Regions from separate parts of the Homo sapiens genome. Here region 1 is reported to be linked to region 2. The links are microRNA targets in miRTarBase. Many come from high-throughput screens and were not tested one by one. Region 2 holds a microRNA gene; the other region holds the end of a gene's coding sequence. Distances are from middle to middle.
The links. The annotated mature microRNA hsa-miR-6775-3p reads AGGCCCUGUCCUCUGCCCCAG and lies in region 2 at 2,451-2,471, shown strand. An mRNA with a match to its seed (bases 2 to 7 or 8) in the 3' UTR can be bound and repressed. Matches are read on the target gene's strand: a 7mer-m8 pairs with bases 2 to 8, a 7mer-A1 pairs with bases 2 to 7 and ends in A, and an 8mer does both.

Region 1 (4,373 bases), 84 Mb from region 2:
ACTCGGCCCCTGGAAGTGGACCTCAGTGGGTGGCCTGCCCTGACAGGGAAGGGCGTGAGGGGGAAGGACATGGCCCAGAGCAAGCCACATGAGAAAAATTACAATAAAGTATGGGACATCCGCTGGGGACAGGGAGCAAGCAACATGGGGCCACTGAGGGAAGGAGGTGACAAGGTGGGAGCCAAGGGACAGGGGTCCTGGGGTCTGAATTTTCCTCAGCAAGCAAGTGGGAGCCAGCAATGGTTGTAGAGCAGGAGAGTAGTGGGTCTGGACTCATAGAGCAGCTTGTGGCTCAGGGGAGGTAGGAGGGTTAGCTGGTTCCCCAGAGCCTGTGTGGGTGATGGGGGGGAGGGAACTGAGGCAGCAGACCAGAAGTGCTCCTGCACATTCCCCTGCCTGCCTACCTTCTTTTGTCCCTCCTTCCTCTCCCTCCCTCCCAACAATGCTTTCTGAGCACCCAGGAACCTGCTGGGTGCTGGGAGGACACGATGGACCCTCGAGAAGGCTGCCCGAGGCTCCAGGCAGGCAGAGTGCAGACCCAGCAGCTGCAGCCTCGGCTGTGGGGAGCAACAAAGGCGCCTGAAACCAGGCCGCCCACAGGATGTTGGAAACCACAGGGCCCGGTGGGTATCCGTCACATAAAAGGGGCCAGAGGCTCACACTGCCTCCCTTTGTGGCTCAGGGGGATGGATGCGGAGCCTGAGAGGACACAGCCTCATCCACGGGATCTTGGGGAGCAGCCCAACCCAGCCCAGCCCAGCCCCGCCCCGCCCCGCCCCGCCCGTTCCTCCCCCTCGCAGGAATGTCCATCAGTCCACACAGGGCTGGTCCCATTCCCCACTCTGCCCGCTCTGCTGAGAACCAGGTGGGCCGTCCTCCTGGCTCCTGGTGGAGGTGGGGGTGCTGGGCTGGGGGCTCCCTAACTGTTCTCACTCTGGGGCTTTCTGTCCACCCAGAGCTGGGGTCAGCCAGACAGGAAGCGACCTCAGCCCTTCCTAACTCAGCAACAGCGCAAGGCCCCTGCCTGCAGGCTCTTTCTTTGTAAGTGCCCTTGCCTGGGCCCAGGCTGGGGTGTGGCTCCCCTGTGACTGCCTTGAGGGGCTGTGCCCAAGCCATGCCAGGTTGGGGCCACCAAAAGTGGGACAGGCCTGGAGGCCTGTTCATATTACAGTGAGGCATAGACAGACCCGTTTTCTGATTTAGTTGTTACCAGTGAAAGTTCTGCTGCCAGTCTTTTATTCTCCCCCTTTAGAAATGTTTTTAATATTGTTTTCAAAATAGAGACTTGGCCTTACTATGTTGCCCAGGCTGGTCTCAAACTCCTGGGCTCAAGTGATCCTCCTGCCTTGGCCTCCCAAAGCACTGGGATTACATGTGGGAGCCACCGCACCCGGCATGCCAGCTTCCTTCTCAGTCACTCCTGGAAGGTAACTCTCTCTCGCCTTGTCCATGAAGAGGCCCCATTGCCTGCCAGTCTTGCTGCAGGCGCTGTGAGAAGGCATTTTCCATCTGTCAACTGGACCTAGTTTTATGTTGCCCGGGTCAGCGTCATCCCTGTAGCAGGGGCCAGGTCTACTCCTGGATGCCACCACGCCTCTGTGGGTTCCTGCAGTGACTCCTTCAACCCTTTCCCTCTGGAGGAATCAGCTGCTTCACAGCTTGTTTCAGGACAAGGAAATGCTGCTTTGTACAGGTTCAGGGCCAGCATCCAGTCCCCTGGCTGGGTGGCAGTGCATAAACCAAGCCTCTGCCCAGCGCTGTCAGCCCAGGGAGCGTCCAGCAGCCCCAACTGAATCCAAGGTCACCACAAGGCTCGAATCCAGTCCCCAGGCCATGCCTCCCCTGGCCTTGGGCTCACACTGCACTCAAGGCTCCTAACCCAGCTTGTTAACTACTTGGAACCCCTCCCCCAACCCATCTTTACCAGCCTTGAAGTTCTGAACTTTCAAGTCATGGCACATAACACATACTTCCCCAAACCACAAACCCTGCGAGGCCGGACAGGGGCCCCGAGTCCCCCACCTGCACCACTCCCTCTCGCTTCCCTAACACCAGGGAGGGGGATCAGCCCATCAAGGAAGCAGTGCGTGATGCCTTCCGAAACAGGCCAGAGGCCAGCCTCAGATTGATCACAGCTGATCTCAGCCTCTCAAATTGTTCGCCCCGGGCACCGTAAGCTGGGAGGCCTGGGCCTCTCCGCTGGTTCACGTGCCAGGACATAGTATGTGCGCCAGAAATCACATTTCACCCCCTAAATGCTGCTGAGCCCTAAGATGCAGCTCACAAACCCCTCTTCTGGGAGGCTGTCCCTGACACGGCCCTTCAAGCCACTGGAGCCCGACTCCCCACCAGGCTGGGATAGGCCAGCGTCTGTCTCCTCCACTGGACCGGACGCAATGGTAAAGGCATGTGCTGTCTTGGTGAGTTGTGGGGTGGGGCCTGAATCTGCTTTTGTAGCAACTCCCGGCTGAGGCAGCAGCTGGGGGTGCTTGGGCCCCACTTTGAGGTGCGGGGGCTGGAGCTTGGCACCCAGCCAGGGCTCTGTTGGATACGGGTGTGTGGATTAATGGATGAACATCTGCATCTCTGGTCTGGGAACTGAAATGAGGAGACAGCAGGCCCAGGTTACTCCAAAGTAAAGGGCAGGTGCAAGGTGGGGACTTCTGCAGGCGTGGGGCACGGGCTGAGGGGCCACGGTGCCTCCAGGTCCCCCGTTTCGCTCGTGGTCTCCCTGGAGTGTGGCAGCCAGATTTTAATAAAGCCTTTTTGGTTTATTGCACATCATATAAAACTGACTGCACTGTATTTGAAACAGACGAGGACATTCACAAGGATGGAGAAACCAAGGTTTCCTTCTTTCCTGGCCCTCATCTTCCTCCACACTGCTCCTGAGGCTGGAGGCAGCTTTAACCCAAAGAATGGAATCCGCTAGTGAACATGTTTGTTTTGTGGTGGCATCAGAGTTGTTCTGGGCCCTTGTGCACTGTCCAGTTTGGAGACTGCTGGTAACAATGACAAGTGTCCGGGTAGCACGGCTGGGTCAGGAGAACTGCATCTGGGCTGTGGCAGTGCAGGGAGCCTCAGGACACCTGGTCTCAGGCTGGCGGTGGCTGGGGTTGGCCTGAGTGCTGAGGAGGACGGGCCCGGGCTGCCGGGGCAGGCTGGACCTGACGTCCATCTCAGGACAGACATGTAGGGCAGCTGTGCCCAGGACTGGTGGGCTCAGAGGGTGGCAAATGTGGCAGAATAGGCCATGCCCTGGCCAGCTGGTGATGGCCCACTGCCCCCTGGGACAGCTGAGGGCCCTCTTGGGTTAAGGGAGACACACTGGGCCGGGCGCAGTGGCTGGCGCCTGTGATCCCAGCACTTTGGGAGGCCGCAGCAGGCGGATTGCCTGAGCTCTGGAGTTTGTGACCAGCCTGAGCAACATGGTGAAACCCCGTTTCTACTAAAATATAAAAAATCAGCTGGGCGTGGCAGCGTGTGCCTGTAGTCCCAGCTATCTGGGAGGCTGAGGCAGGAGAATTGCTTGAACCCGGGAGGCGGAGGTTGCAGTGAGCCGAGATTGTGCCACTGCACTCCAGCCTAGGTGACACAGCACGACTGTCTCAAAAAGAAAAAAAAAAAGAAAACCAAAAAGGGAGACACACTGTGAGCACGGACAGAGGAAGGGGCTGGAGTCTGTAAATCCAGTGGGTGACATGCTCCAAATGCCACCCTAGAAAGCAGAGCCCAGAGGAGGAAGCCCTGGATTGGGCTGTGGTCATCATCACAGCGCAGAGCTGATGTGGTCCCCAGGCCCAGAAATGCCTGTGGAGGCCTGACCCACGCTGGGTGTCCCAGGTCCTCCCTGCAAATGGCGGGGGTGGGGGCTGCTGATGGCAGGTTGGGGTGGGGTCGGGATGGCCCCATCAGTTCCGCTCCACCTTCTTCTTGCCCCGAGGCTGCCGCCTCCTGCCCTGGAGCTTCTCCCTGCGGGTGGCGGCAGTGGTGAAGGTGATACAGTGGGTGTCCAGGAAGTCCAACAGCCTGCGCGAGGACACACGGAGGCCGTTCTGCCTCAGCTCTGCCTGCAGCTCCCGCAGCTCAAAGGGCTGGTACAGCAGCACCTTCTGGTACAGGGCCGGCTTGGAGCGGATGTAGCACCTCAGCGCCTCGTCTGTGTCCGCCGCCTGCACGGCTGCCTGCGAGGCACTGACCTCCCCCTCGCCCTCCTCTTCACCTGCAGACTCAAATGCCGCTCCAAACTCACAGGAGGAAGAACTGAAAAGAGCCAGACCAGGACGTTGTGCAACCCCTTTCTCTCCAGCCCCTGAGACCATGAGCCTCTTTAAAGGAAGGAAGGTGTCTACGGGTCCCATGGAGCCTGGCCT
Region 2 (4,373 bases):
GCACGGCTGTGCCGGGGGTTACAGAAACTGTTTTCTTGGTGACCACTGGGTTAGGTCAGGTTGTGGCCCTCGCACACAGAGCCACAGTCCAGCAGAGCCCAGCTGTGTATGTACACTGTGTTCTTCACCTGTCCTTAACCCAAATGTGGTCTCCATTTCCTCCTCTCCTCCCTCCTTCCCTCCTCTCCTCCCTCCTTCCCTCCTCCCCGCCTCTTCCCTCCTCCTCTCCTCCCTCCTTCCCTCCTTTCCTCCTTCAAGACCTTGCATGTTGCTCAGATGAGGTTTCTCCTTTAAAACAAAATTCCCTGGTGCTCAGCTGGGCCCAGCCAGGCTGGACAGTCCCCGGTGGCCACCACGGCCGTCCACAGCCCTGCTCGTGGGCCCCAGGGCTCAGCCAGCCGCCTCTCTCTTCCAGTGTGTGATGACGCTGCTCTACGCCTTCTCCAAGGACATCTTCTCCGTCATCAACTTCTTCAGCTTCTTCAACTGGCTCTGCGTGGCCCTGGCCATCATCGGCATGATCTGGCTGCGCCACAGAAAGCCTGAGCTTGAGCGGCCCATCAAGGTGAGCCCGGGGCCTCCCGCTCACCCAGGCACCCTTCACAGAGGCAGGGTCCGTGGGTCCTAAGGACCCTGAGTTGGGAGCCAGCATCCCAGCTCAGCCTCTGGACCTGCCCCTGCCTGCATGCACCTGGGTCGACTAATTCCGGTGATGACTTGACCACCAGCTACGAGGGTGCCAAGTGTGACTGCAGGAGCCGGGGTTCCTCAAAGGACAGCAGATGGCACAGAGCTTGTGCTCCGTTGGGTGGAGGGAAGCAGATAAGGACACTGCAGTCATAGGTGGGCGGTGGTGAGCCCCGGCAGGGGCGGGGCAGAGCCGGGCCTGGCGCAGCATTCAAAGGGCCGTCGGGGCTGTGCTGGCAGGAGGAATGCAGGGAACCCGGCCCGAGGAGCGCCTGGGCCCAGCTGGACTCTCCTGGACTCTCCCCGTCCCCAGCGGCTCATTCAGAGGGGTAGCTGTTATCCGTGGGCTGCCTTCTCCAAAAACGGGGCCGTCCAGCAGAGGCCATGCTCTTGCCTGGGGCCCAGCAAGTCCCGCCGCCCTGGCCCTGACACAGAACAAGAGGCCAGAGCCCCTGGTGGCTGCTAGCCAGCAGCTTTTGTCACTCAGCTGGCCTATGGCTGTCACAGTAGCCCCTGCTTCCCTGCCCGGACCATCTCTCCCTCTGTGTTCCCGAAGCCTGGGGGCCCCGGGGGTGCCTGTGAATGCTGTTGAACGGGCTTTAGGCTGGGCGCGGTGGCTCACGCCTGTAATCCCAGCACTTTGGGAGGCCGAGGCGGGCAGATCACAAAGTCAGGAGATAGAGACCATCCTGGCTAACACGGTGAAACCCCGTCTCTACTAAAAATACAAAAAAATTAGCTGGGCGTGGTGGCGGGCGCCTATAGTTGCAGCTACTCGGGAGGTGGAGGCAGGAGAATGGCATGAACCTGGGAGGCCGAGGTCGCGCCACTGTACTCCAGCCTGGACGACAGAGTGAGACTCCGTCTCAAACAAACAAAAAAAACAGGGGCTTTAAAATACAGTCAGCACAAGAACCCAGATGCTGCCCCAAGAGAAGGCTGCAGAGGGCAGGGAGGAGCCGCCCTACATGGGCACCAGCTTGTGCCTGCTGTGCCAGCCTGGGGCAGTGCCTAGGGCACAGGGCAGTCACTGCGCACAGCGGGGGCTCAGCCCCCATGGGGACCTGGGCATGGGGTAGGCTCTACCCACTGTTGTGAGCCTGGGCACGGGTTGGCGTCTGTTCCCTGGGGACAGGGCAGTCATGCAGCCCACACTGATGGGCTGGGACCTGTGGTCAGCCCTGCATCTCCCAGGGTGCCCTGTCCAAGTATGGATTCAGGACAGCTGAGTCAATCCCCCAGCCATGCCGAGCCGCAGGTTGCGGCCTGCAGGCTCCTTGCAGCCCTGCCTGGCTTCTGTGCCGGGTGGAGCTCATCTGCTGAAGGTGACAGTTTAGGCTGCAGCTTCAGGGATGGGCTTTTGCTCAGCGCTGTCCACAGCGGCGTCTCCAAGAGGGTGGTCTCCTGGCTTATTAGTGGGTGGCCACTGTCTCCTGGAAGCATCAGGCCCCTGTGCGTCCTGGCGGCTCAGGGTTTCCAGGCCTGTGATGTGGGAATGGAGCCGTGACCTTCCCTGCCCGTGGGAGGCCTCGGGAGACGAAGCTGTCTCCTTCCATCCCTCATCATAAGCCGCCTGAGCCCCTGGCAACATGCCCAGCACTGTATGCAGAGTCGAGGGCGGGACAGCCCGGTGTGTGAGGCAGATGGAGTGCAGATCGCATCTTGGTGACCTGGAAGTCAGCAGCCGTGGGTGTGGAGGGCCCAGGAGGGCTGAGGAACCTCGGGGCATGGGGGAGGGAGGCTGGACAGGAGAGGGCTCACCCAGGCCCTGTCCTCTGCCCCAGGTGAACCTGGCCCTGCCTGTGTTCTTCATCCTGGCCTGCCTCTTCCTGATCGCCGTCTCCTTCTGGAAGACACCCGTGGAGTGTGGCATCGGCTTCACCATCATCCTCAGCGGGCTGCCCGTCTACTTCTTCGGGGTCTGGTGGAAAAACAAGCCCAAGTGGCTCCTCCAGGGCATCTGTGAGTATCTCGCTGGCCCACAGCCCGTGGTACCCTCTGCCCTGGGCAGCGAAGGGAGTTGAGAGGCGTCGGCCGTCTCCACCCACATGGGGCGAAGCGTGTTGGGTGGCAGGAGGGTTCAGGTCACTGCAGTGTCCGCCAGTGACACGCAGCCCACATGGTTCAGGGATAAGACACACAGCGCAGCACCAGCTAATCTCTCAGGACGAGGGATTCCGGAAAACCAGGCTACTGCTGCCAAGTAACAAAATCCTGCTGGCTGCCACCAGCGGACACAGCAGACTTACCCAGAAAGGCAGAAAGAGGCAGAGGCAGGCGGATCACTTGAGGTCAGGAGTTCAAGACCAGCCTGGCCAACATGGTGAAACTCTGTCTCTACTAAAAATACACAGATCAGCTGGGTGTAGTGGCACACACCTGTAATCCCAGCTACTCAGGAGGCTGAGGCAGGAGAATCACTTGAACCCGGGAGACGGAGGTTGCAGTGAGCCGAGATCGCACCATTGCACTCCAGCCTGGGCGACAGAGCGAGACTCTTCTCAAAAAAAAAAAAAAAGGCAGAAGGAGAAACCCGCCCCCCGGCCCTGTGTGCAGCGGCAGCCCCAGGGGTGCTTTGTCACCAAGCTCAGGACCCCGTCCTCAGCGCCTGCAAATGTGGCCAGGCTCGTAGAAAAAGGCCGGGGTGCTTGCGGGCCTACATGCTGATCCCCATGTCACTGGGTGGCTTGGAGAATTCCCGGGATGGCAGCAACACAGGCAGGGAGACCCCCCACCCCTACCCCACACTCTGATCACCGCCAGGGTCATGGTAGAACATTTGCCTCAAGCTTTGCAGTGGGATCTGCATTAACTGTCATTCAGGACACCAAGAGCTTAAAGCAAACCCCCGTCTCTATCCTGAAAGCAGTCCCCCTCCACAGAGTGATGTCTCTGTAGACAGTCCCAGGCGCGACAGGTCTTCCGAGGACCCGTTAGCAGATTGGCCCCTCCGGCCCTGCCTGCTGTGAACAGTCCAGGCATGTGTCCAGGTGGTGGCCCGGGTGTGGACCTGCAGGAAGGCCTGTCATCCCCCCGTTGCACTTTGCTGAGACACCAGGGCCTGGTTCGTGTGCCCCAGGGGCCGCACTCTGCCTCCCCAGGGTTCTGAAGCAGGCGAGGGGTGGGCCGAGTGGGATGTGGCACTTCCGCATTTCAGTTGAAGACAGCGCCTCGGGCACCCGGCACCCACATGCGCAAGTACACAAGGGAAGGTTCCTTAAAATCCCAGCGCTGGGCAGCGGCGCTGGGTTTGGTGACAGCAGGGCTGGGGGAGCCCCAGCTCACGCCCCCGTGTCCCACGGGTGCCTACCCAGCCCCCAGGCTAACACAGCTGTCTTCTCTCCTGACAGTCTCCACGACCGTCCTGTGTCAGAAGCTCATGCAGGTGGTCCCCCAGGAGACATAGCCAGGAGGCCGAGTGGCTGCCGGAGGAGCATGCGCAGAGGCCAGTTAAAGTAGATCACCTCCTCGAACCCACTCCGGTTCCCCGCAACCCACAGCTCAGCTGCCCATCCCAGTCCCTCGCCGTCCCTCCCAGGTCGGGCAGTGGAGGCTGCTGTGAAAACTCTGGTACGAATCTCATCCCTCAACTGAGGGCCAGGGACCCAGGTGTGCCTGTGCTCCTGCCCAGGAGCAGCTTTTGGTCTCCTTGGGCCCTTTTTCCCTTCCCTCCTTTGTTTACTTAT

Region 1: the mRNA of SLX4 is a reported target of hsa-miR-6775-3p. Seed matches in the 3' UTR shown: 7mer-A1 at 2,862-2,868.

What each region holds. Positions count from the first base shown.
Region 1 is chr16:3,578,431-3,582,803 of GRCh38, forward strand. It overlaps SLX4 (SLX4 structure-specific endonuclease subunit), which reads right to left. Exons shown (of 15, transcript NM_032444.4): 15 at 2,751-4,263. The coding sequence ends at 3,912. LOC105371060 (a long non-coding RNA gene) reads left to right here. Exons shown (of 2, transcript XR_001752061.3): 1 at 1-623; 2 at 957-2,791. Among named protein-coding and RNA genes, the nearest start is that of NLRC3, 3.2 kb to the left of the region's middle. RefSeq lists enhancers at 57-106, 137-316, 2,218-3,013 and a silencer at 757-856.
Region 2 is chr16:87,832,690-87,837,062 of GRCh38, reverse strand. MIR6775 (microRNA 6775) reads left to right here and starts at 2,403; the gene lies at 2,403-2,471. SLC7A5 (solute carrier family 7 member 5) reads left to right here. Exons shown (of 10, transcript NM_003486.7): 8 at 416-565; 9 at 2,472-2,649; 10 at 4,038-4,373. The coding sequence ends at 4,093. SLC7A5-AS1 (SLC7A5 antisense RNA 1) reads right to left here and starts at 798. Exons shown (of 2, transcript XR_007065175.1): 1 at 261-798. RefSeq lists enhancers at 1-386, 2,478-3,032 and a silencer at 2,166-2,460.